Linked DNA regions of Homo sapiens: regions 2 and 3 are each linked to region 1. Evidence: fine-mapped expression QTL. A gene starts in region 1. Each other region holds a variant in brackets. All regions are shown on one strand. Distances are from middle to middle.

Region 1 (2,747 bases):
TTCTCTGAGTCTTCTGGGCAACTTCATGCCACAAGCAAAATGGGTCACTGCTGCCTCGCCTCTACATATCATATAGCATTTCTAGCTGGGTACGGTGGCTCACACCTGTAATCCCAGCACTTTGGGAGGCCGAGGCAGGCGGATCACCTGAGGTCAGGAGTTTGAGACCAGCCTGGCCAACATGGTGAAACCCCGTCTCTACTAAAAACACACATACAAAAAAAATAAAAAATTAGCCGGGTGTGGTGGTGGGCGCCTGTAATCCCAGCTACTCGGGAGACTGAGGGAGGAGAATCGCTTTAACCCGGGTGGCGGAGGTTACAGTGAGCCGAGATAGCGCCATTGCACTCCAGCTTGGGCAACAAGAGCGAAAGTCCGTCTAAGGAAAAAAAAAAAAGCATTTCTGGCCACCAAGTAAATCCTAACTGTAGGAGACAAAGCAGGTTTAATCCTAAACTTCGCAAAGACCTCTTCTTTTATACCAATGTCTTCAGCTCTGAGGAAAAGGGAGCTAAGTCTACTTGCAACCAAAAAATAGAGATTGTCATTCTCCACTCTCAACCAAATTGCTCCCACCCATAAACTGGACTCACCAAAAAGAAAACGAAAGACAGCTAAGCTTGCAGGGTCCGTTGGTCGATTCAGCAGGGTCACCAGCCTCCGCCAACTGGACAAATCTGTCCACTCAAAACCCAAGAGTTTCCCTATTCGGCTGTCCTGCCTGGGCCCTGAGATCAGTTCAGCCTTGTCTTTCTGTACTTTATCTGCAATCAATAAATGGAGAAAATATGTGTGCGGGGGTGGGCTCCACCTCAAATCAAAGAAATCACTGCACCAACAGCTCAGAGCTTCCGCCCACCCGGGTCGGCTCAATGAGGTTGCCTCAATGATCTGACTATAGGAAACATCCCTGCAGTGCAGCCCCCTCTCCACGATCCCCTAATGTCCCAGAACCCCTCAGACTACAGTCCCCTAACCGCAGTGTTCCCGAATGTCATCATCATTCAGAAGCCGCAGGCTGCAAATGTCTCACAGCACGCCCCCTTCCCCACAGAGGACCCCCCCCCCGCCTCACCGGGAGACACTGGGCGTCCTCCCGCCCCCGCCCCTCTGAGACCAGCGCTCCTAGGAACTCTCCGCCGGAGGGCGGGGTCCTAAGCCTACCTGAGCTGGGCGAGGTCCGCGCGGACCCGGCAGACACCGCCATTGCTCTGCGGAGGAGGCAGGTGGGTCACAGCTGCCGCGTCTGAACGGAGGCCGCCAGGAGAATTTGCTTCCCTAGGCTCCGCCTCCCGACGCGTCAGCGGCTGTGCGGCCGGCCGCAAAGCGCCAGCACTGTCGTAAATACTACCCACGACCGGCGGCGCCGGATTCCTTGCTTGGCGGCAGGGGGCGGAACAAGGAGCCTTGGAGCGGGGCAAAGGTACCCCTTAGTGCCGTTGATCTCCAGGGGCATTGTTAGACTCGCCTGTTATGCCTTCCGAGGGGGCCTCTGCTTTTTAAACACTGAAAAGAGTCTGAGTTCCCCAACTTCCTTGGGTCCTCCCCGACCCCATTAGTCCTCTCCGTCCCTGCGTCCCTGCGGTGCTCTCTGGTGTGAGGGATCGGGCGCAAAGGGCAAACTTTTTGTCAGAGTGACGCCGAGTTGAGGACGCGCCTGGAAATGTTGCCTGGGTTTTGAGCCATTGCACGACCCCTTCACTTTCTTTTCCAGGACCTGCAAAGAACCGAGGTTTCAAAGCAGTAGGGGCCGGGCACTGCTCTCGCTTGTAATCCCAACAGTTTGGAAGGCCAATGCGGGAGGATCGATAAAGAAAAAAAAAAAAGGCAACAACAAAAAAAGAAAAAACACTAAAAAAAAAGTTAGCTGTGTGTCGTGGCGCGCTCCTGTGGTTTCAGCTACTCGGGAGGCTGAGGTGGGAGGTTCGCTTGAGCCCAGTAGTTCGAGGCTGCAGGGAGCTGTGATCGCACCACTGCACTCCAGCCTGGGGGACACAGTGAGACCCCGTCTCAAAAAAAAAAAAAAAAAAAAACAAGCCGGGTGCGGCAGCAAGCCTGTAATCCCAGCACTTTGAGAGGCCAAGGCGGGCGGATCACTTGAAGTCAGGAGTTAAAGACCAGCCTGGCCAACATGGTGAAACCCCGTCTGTACTAAAAATACAAAAATAATCCGGGCATGGTGGCGTGCGCCTGTAATCCCAGCTACTCGGGAGGCTGAGGCAGGAGAATCGCTTGAACCTAGGAGGCGGAGGTTGCAGTGAGCCAAGATCGCGCTACTGCACTCCAGCCTGGGCGACAGAGTGAGACTCCGTCTCAAAAAACAAAAAACGAAAAAGAAAGAGAAAGAAAAGAAAAGGCGGGAAGAAAAGAAAGAAAGAAAATTAAAAGCAGCCAGGGAAACAGGAACAACATAACTGAAGAGGGGATACAGAGCAAGGGCAGTGAGTAGAGTGTGGCCCATCAGGGAAGGTTCTCAGAGGTGAGTCTGGAGCAGAATTAAATACCTAAATCTCTCCACTGGGATTAGCCAGCAGGAAAAGAAGAAGGCATCCCAGAGAAGCGGTTCTCAAACAGTTGGGTCTTGGGAACCATTTACAGTGTTAGAAATTATAGAAGACCCTAAAAGCTTTGTTTATGTGGATTATATCTTTCAATATTTGCCGTATTAGAAATTTTTTTGGCCGGGCGCGGTGGCTCACGCCTGTAATCCCAGCACTTTGGGAGGACGAGGCGAGTGGATCACGAGG
Region 2 (2,757 bases), 44 kb before region 1:
CGTGCTTATGCAATATTAACCCACTGGTATTTCAGAGATGGTGACAGAGGTCCCATCTGGCACCCTTAGTTTCTTTGGGAATCAGCATTCCTTTATCAACTCACCCTGCAGACTTGGTTTAGCAGCAGAAACCTATCCGGCTCTCCCAGGCACCGGCTTTGGCCCTTCCTGCACAGCCTCGGAAGTGCCTGGATCACCTCCATCAGCAGCTATCGACCTCTGTCTGAAGTCCAAGTTGTTTGCTTACCTTTCCTGGGCTGAGTCATTAAAGGAAATGTATTAGTTTACTTTTTCAACTTCTCTATTCTCTAGAATTTAGCTTCCTTATTTTACACACGAAAGGATAAAGGAGTTATACTGGATATTTTGTAGCAGATTGGGGGTGGGGGGGCGAGGGTCGGGGGAGACAGAAGGAGGGCCTAATCTGCAATAGAAAAAGAGAGAATGATTCTTGTATTAATGTTTGTTTTTCATTTATTTATTTTTCCTGCATGATCATGTTCACCATCATGTCCTGAAAGGCAACACCTACAGGCAAAGAAGATGTGGAAGGGCCTGCACCACCTGATCGCCATCATCCCTGCCCTCTGGGGCCTGGCAATCCAGTTGGGCAGCCTGCACAGAATGACCTGTATTTTCTGGGCCAGGACAGAAGTCAAGAGGAAGGGGAGATGCACAAAGGCCAAGGTAGTCAGAGAAGGTTTAGATGAGAAGAGGCCCTGAAAGGTGGTTGGGACCTGGAAACAGCAGAGTGGTGGGTTCTGGGCAGGGAGATGCCCAAAGTGCAGCTGTGGCAGGGCATGATGGCTCACGCCTGTAATCCCAGCACTTTGGGAGGCTGAGATGGGTGGATAACCTGAGGTCAGGAGTTCAAGACCAGCCTGGCCAATATGGTAAAATCTTGTCACTACTAAAAATACAAAAATTAGCGGGGCATGCTGGCGCGTCCCTGTAATCTCAGCTACTCCGAAGGCTGAGGCAGAAGAATCGCTTGAATCCAGGAGGCGGAGGTTGCAGTGAGCCGAGATCATGCGGCTGCCCTCCAGCCTGGGCAACAGAGAGACTCCGTCTCAAAGAAAAAAAAAAAAAAAAAAGAAACAAAAAGAAAATGAAGCTGTGGAGGCCAAGAC[A/C]GGCTGGATGTGTCTGAAGAACGTGGCATGTTGCGGGGCTGGGAGTGCAGAGAGGGGATGATAACCTGGGAAGGCAAAGCCTTGTCACAGAGCAGGCACTTGAAACCCATGGTCTTTCGCCAGCTGCAGGGGTCCTGAGCCCTGAAACTGTCCTTCAAATGGGGTGTGTTTGTGTAAGCTTCTGCAGAGATGGCCATAGGAGTCAAAGGAGTTTGGGGAGAGATTCATGTGCCTTGGCTAAATGATCTGAATTTTACTCTGTGGAAGCCAATGAGTTTGAGAGTGGAGAAGAAGCGAGGTATCATGAGAAAAACAGTTTTTAGATGTGGGTTTTGTTGTTGCTATTCTTTTAGTTTTTATTTTTATTTATTTATTTTTTTCTGAGATGGAGTCTTGCTCTATCAGCCGGGCTGGAGTGCAGTGGCGCGATCTCAGCTCACTCCAACCTCTGCCCCCAGGTTTAAGCAATTCTCCTGCCTCAGTCCCTGGAGCAGCTGGAACTACAGGCGCATGCCACAACGCCTGGCTAATTTTTGTATTTTTAGTAGAGACAGGGTTTCGGCATGTTGGCCAGGCTGGTCTCGAACTCCTGACCTCAGGTGATCCGCCCGCCTCAGCCTCCCAAGGTGCTAGGATTACAGGCGTGAGCCACCCCGCCCAGCCTAGTTTTTATTTTTTAAAGATTAATCCAGGAATGGTGAGTTAGAATGGGGAGGAACTCAGACAGGGAACTTTTAAGTTTCAGTCCCTTTTGGTATAGGCATGACGTGGAAAAGGCCCCAAAACAATGAAGGAATGGGCAGGAGAAACATCAGAAAAGATGAATTGGCAAGATTTTATGACTGCATGTGATCGGAGAAAAAGAGTGTGCTAGTGACCCAAAGGTGACTAAGATTTTAGCTTAGGCAAGGTGTAACTAGGTTTCTGCACAATACTAGCTTATTTCTATAAGTTACTGTTTTGGGTTTTTTTGTTTTTGTTCTTTTTTTGAGACAGAGTCTCGCTCTGTCACCCAGGCTGGAGTATGGTGGTATGATCTTGGCTCACTGCAACCTCCATATCCCAGATTCAAGCGGTTCTTGTGCCTCAGCCTCCTGAGTAGCTGGAATTACAGACATGGGCCAACTCGCCCGACTAATTTTTGTATTAGTAGAGATGGAGTTTTTTCATGTTGCCAGGCTGGTCTTGAACTCTTGGCCTCAAGTGATCCATCTGCTTCAGCCTCCTAAAGTACTGGGATTAGAGGCATAAGCCACCGCTCTCGGCCTAACTTACTGATTTTAACAAGAGGTTTTGCTTACAAATTGTACCAATCACAATTTCTGGAGGATCATTTTCTTGAAGGATCAATGTGCCTTCTCAAAAAGATGTATGAGTGGTCAATAAACTGAGCTCCTTCCTAGACAGAAAAGTTATGCCAGGATACCCTATCGAGCTGACAGTATCAAAATAGGTCAGTTTCCAGGAGAAAGTCACGAAAGGCCTTAGGGATTCACTCACTAGTTTTCACTATTACATCCTTCTTTTAAATTATTATTATAAAGACAATGTGTAGAGTAGAAAAAAATAGAAGAAAGGATTCTACTTTTGGCTTTGGCAAATAGATCCCTGAACAATCCTACTGACT
Region 3 (2,757 bases), 24 kb after region 1:
TCTGTCGCCACTCGCGGAAGGCGCGCCCCCCGCCCTCGCTCGGCGGCCCGCCCCGCCCCGCCCCTGCTCTTCCTCCGGGGCCGCTGGCACTGCGGCCGCTCCGCAGGCAGAGAAGCCGGGAGCGGGCGAGGCGGCGGCGGCAGCAGCGATGGTGAGGGCCCAGGCGGGGCCGGCCAGCCCTGCGACGGGCAGAGGGCGAGTGGCGAGGGTGGGAGAGAGGAGTCCAAAGTCCGCGGGCTGGGGCCTCCCCTGGGGCCCACGAGGGCCAGACCTGAGGCGGTGACCACTGCTGGAGCAGGACGGGGCGGACCCTCCACTCCCTGCGCGCCGCATGGGAGAGAAATGCGTGAGCCCCGTCCTGGCTGCACCGCGCAGAGCGAGCGGGACTCGGGCTCCCCATTCTCCTGAAGCAAAGCGGTTAAGAGCACCGACTTTGGAGTCGGACTCCGGGCTGGGATCCCAGCTCTGTGACCCGGGACAAGTCACTTAACCTCCCTGAGCCTCCTTTTCCGCGTCTGTGAAGTGGGGTCAGTAATACCTGCCTTGTTGGGTCCTTGCGAGGTTAAAGGAGCCACAGTGGCAGAGACCCGCCTGGCACTCAGAACCCACTGCTAAGAAGTGGTAGGAAATGTAACGACCTCGTCAGCCCTTTCCGCAGCTGTGAGGAGCCAAGCCTGGCTCAGGAGTTGGAAACTTGAGCAGATGGGGTGGCAGAGGCCATTCCAGCCCCATGGCAGGGTGTTGGAGGGCGAACTCCTCCCCTAGAGAAAGAGAAAGGGAGATGTTTACTCTGAAAGTTCCACTGAAGTTATCAGTGTATGGCACAGGCCTGACTCCCTGCTAACCTCTACCTAGTGACACATTCCTGAGTTGAGTCATCCCCACTCCTGCTGCAGATCCTGGCCTTTGTCCTCACTTGCCATCTCCAAGGCAAAGATGTCAGGAACAGCTGGTGCCAGTTTCTCCCTTTCCCTAGGGCTCCTGGGAAAATGGACTGGGCAGGAAGTAGGCTTGGTGCTTTAAGATTTTGCCTTGGAGAAACTGACAGAGGTGTGATGGATGTGGCCTGGCTAGGGGTCAATGCCTGGATGGCCTTATCTCCAGGGAACTTGGAGGCAGGAAGAGGAAGTGGGGCAGGAAGGTAGCACTGAGCTCTGAGGCCAGGCCAGGAAGCTGAGGAAGGCTCTGAGAATAGGGCAGAGCCCAGAGCCCACTTAAGGGTGTGCAGGGCAAGGGGTCAGGCAGGGGTAGGGGTGGGCTTCAGCCGGCCCTTAGCTCTT[T/C]GGGAGAAGCTCCTGAAGTGAAGGCTGAAGGCAGGATATTTTATTGGGGGAGGAGGATACTGGGAAACCTGGGGATTCTCACGGGTACATTTGAGGCAGTCTGTGGAGGAGAGGCTGGGGAGGTCGCTCCTCCACCCATCCATCTCCTAGCCTCTTCCTGTTTCTTCTTTCACTCTTGCCCCTTTAGCGCTTTCCTTCCTTCCACCCATCCCCTTTCCCTCCCTGGTCCTTCTTCCTTTCACTTTTCTTTTCTTCTCTATGACTCATTCAACCAACAAGGATTTCTTGGAAATGTCCTTCATGCCAGCATGGTGACAAGTATAGGGGACAGAGCAGGAACAAAGCAGTGATGGGAAAGATGGAAATGGAATGAATAATTACTTGAATTCATTAATCTTGTAGATGATCCTCTCTCCAAAGAATGTGTGTGTTGAGCCACAGGCCTCCCTCATATGCACACAAATTAGGTTGGTAGCATCAACCAGATTCTTTAGCCAATCAGCTAAAGTGTCTGACCTCCTTGTACCTGCATCTAATTTAGCACACGGGTTACAAATGTGGTGCCTGGAGTCTGTGTTGGTTCAACTCCCAGATCTTCTACTCACTGGCTCTGTGATCTTGGACAGGTGATTTAACACCTCTGAGCCAAAGTTTCCTATAAAACTGGGAAAAGGCCAGGCGCAGTGGCTCACACCTGTAATCCCAGCACTTTGGGAGGCCGAGGCGGGCAGATCACGAGTTCAACAGTTCAAGACCAGCCTGGCAAACATGGTGAAATCCCGTCTCTACTAAAAATATAAAAAAATAGCCGGGTGTGGTGGCACACGCCTGTAGTCCCAACTATGCGGGAGGTTGAGGCAGGAGAATCGCTTGAACCTGGGAGGCGGAGGTTGCAGTGAGCTGAGATCGCGCCATTGCACTCCAGCCTGGGTGACAGAGTAAGGCTGTCTCAGAACAAAAACAAACAAACAAACAAACAAAATAACTGGGTTAATAATATGGCCTTCAATGGGTTGTTGGGTGAGGATTAAATGAGACAGAGCAAATGAACAGCAAGCAGCATAGTGCCTACCTCAGAGTATGTGCCCATTGGATGGTGGCTGTTATTCTTGCTCAAGATGTAAAACCTCAACAGCCTGCCGTGCCAGATGAAAATAAACTAGATGCAGCCGGGCGCGGTGGCTCACGCCTGTAATCCCAGCACTTTGAGAGAGAGGCCAAGCCAGGTGGATCACGAGGTCAGGAGTTCGAGACCACCCTGGCTAACACGGTGAAACCCTGTCTCTACTAAAAATACAAAAAATTAGCTGGGCGTGGTGGCAGGCGCCTGTAGTCCCAGCTACCCTGGAGGCTGAGGCAGGAGAATGGCGTGAACCCAGGAGGCAGAGCTTGCAGTGAGTGGAGATCACGCCACTGCACTCCAGCCTGGGCGACAGAGTGAGACACCATCTCAAAAAAAAAAAGAAAGAAAATAAAC

Alleles and levels. Alleles are on the strand shown, and positions count from the first base shown. SD is a standard deviation of normalised expression in the study named. Not every link is listed here.
In carriers of allele T in region 3, the expression in prefrontal cortex of the gene that starts at base 1,272 in region 1 tends to be lower than with C alone (moderate effect, 0.69 SD a copy in GTEx).

Evidence for each region. PIP is the estimated chance that this variant, and not a neighbour inherited with it, causes the effect.
Region 2: its variant is the best candidate, but not a certain one, in a credible set for the expression of GGCX in tibial nerve (GTEx, PIP 0.58).
Region 3: its variant is the best candidate, but not a certain one, in a credible set for the expression of GGCX in prefrontal cortex (GTEx, PIP 0.87).

What each region holds. Positions count from the first base shown.
Region 1 is chr2:85,560,222-85,562,968 of GRCh38, forward strand. It overlaps GGCX (gamma-glutamyl carboxylase), which reads right to left and starts at 1,272. Exons shown (of 15, transcript NM_000821.7): 1 at 1,165-1,272; 2 at 594-764. The coding sequence starts at 1,207. RefSeq lists an enhancer at 1,246-1,475.
Region 2 is chr2:85,516,632-85,519,388 of GRCh38, forward strand. No RefSeq gene overlaps it. Among named protein-coding and RNA genes, the nearest start is that of PARTICL, 21 kb to the right of the region's middle. The variant A/C (reference allele first, on the strand shown) is at 1,131.
Region 3 is chr2:85,584,343-85,587,099 of GRCh38, forward strand. VAMP5 (vesicle associated membrane protein 5) reads left to right here and starts at 89. Exons shown (of 3, transcript NM_006634.3): 1 at 89-151. The coding sequence starts at 149. RefSeq lists an enhancer at 1-721 and a silencer at 11-360. The variant T/C (reference allele first, on the strand shown) is at 1,281.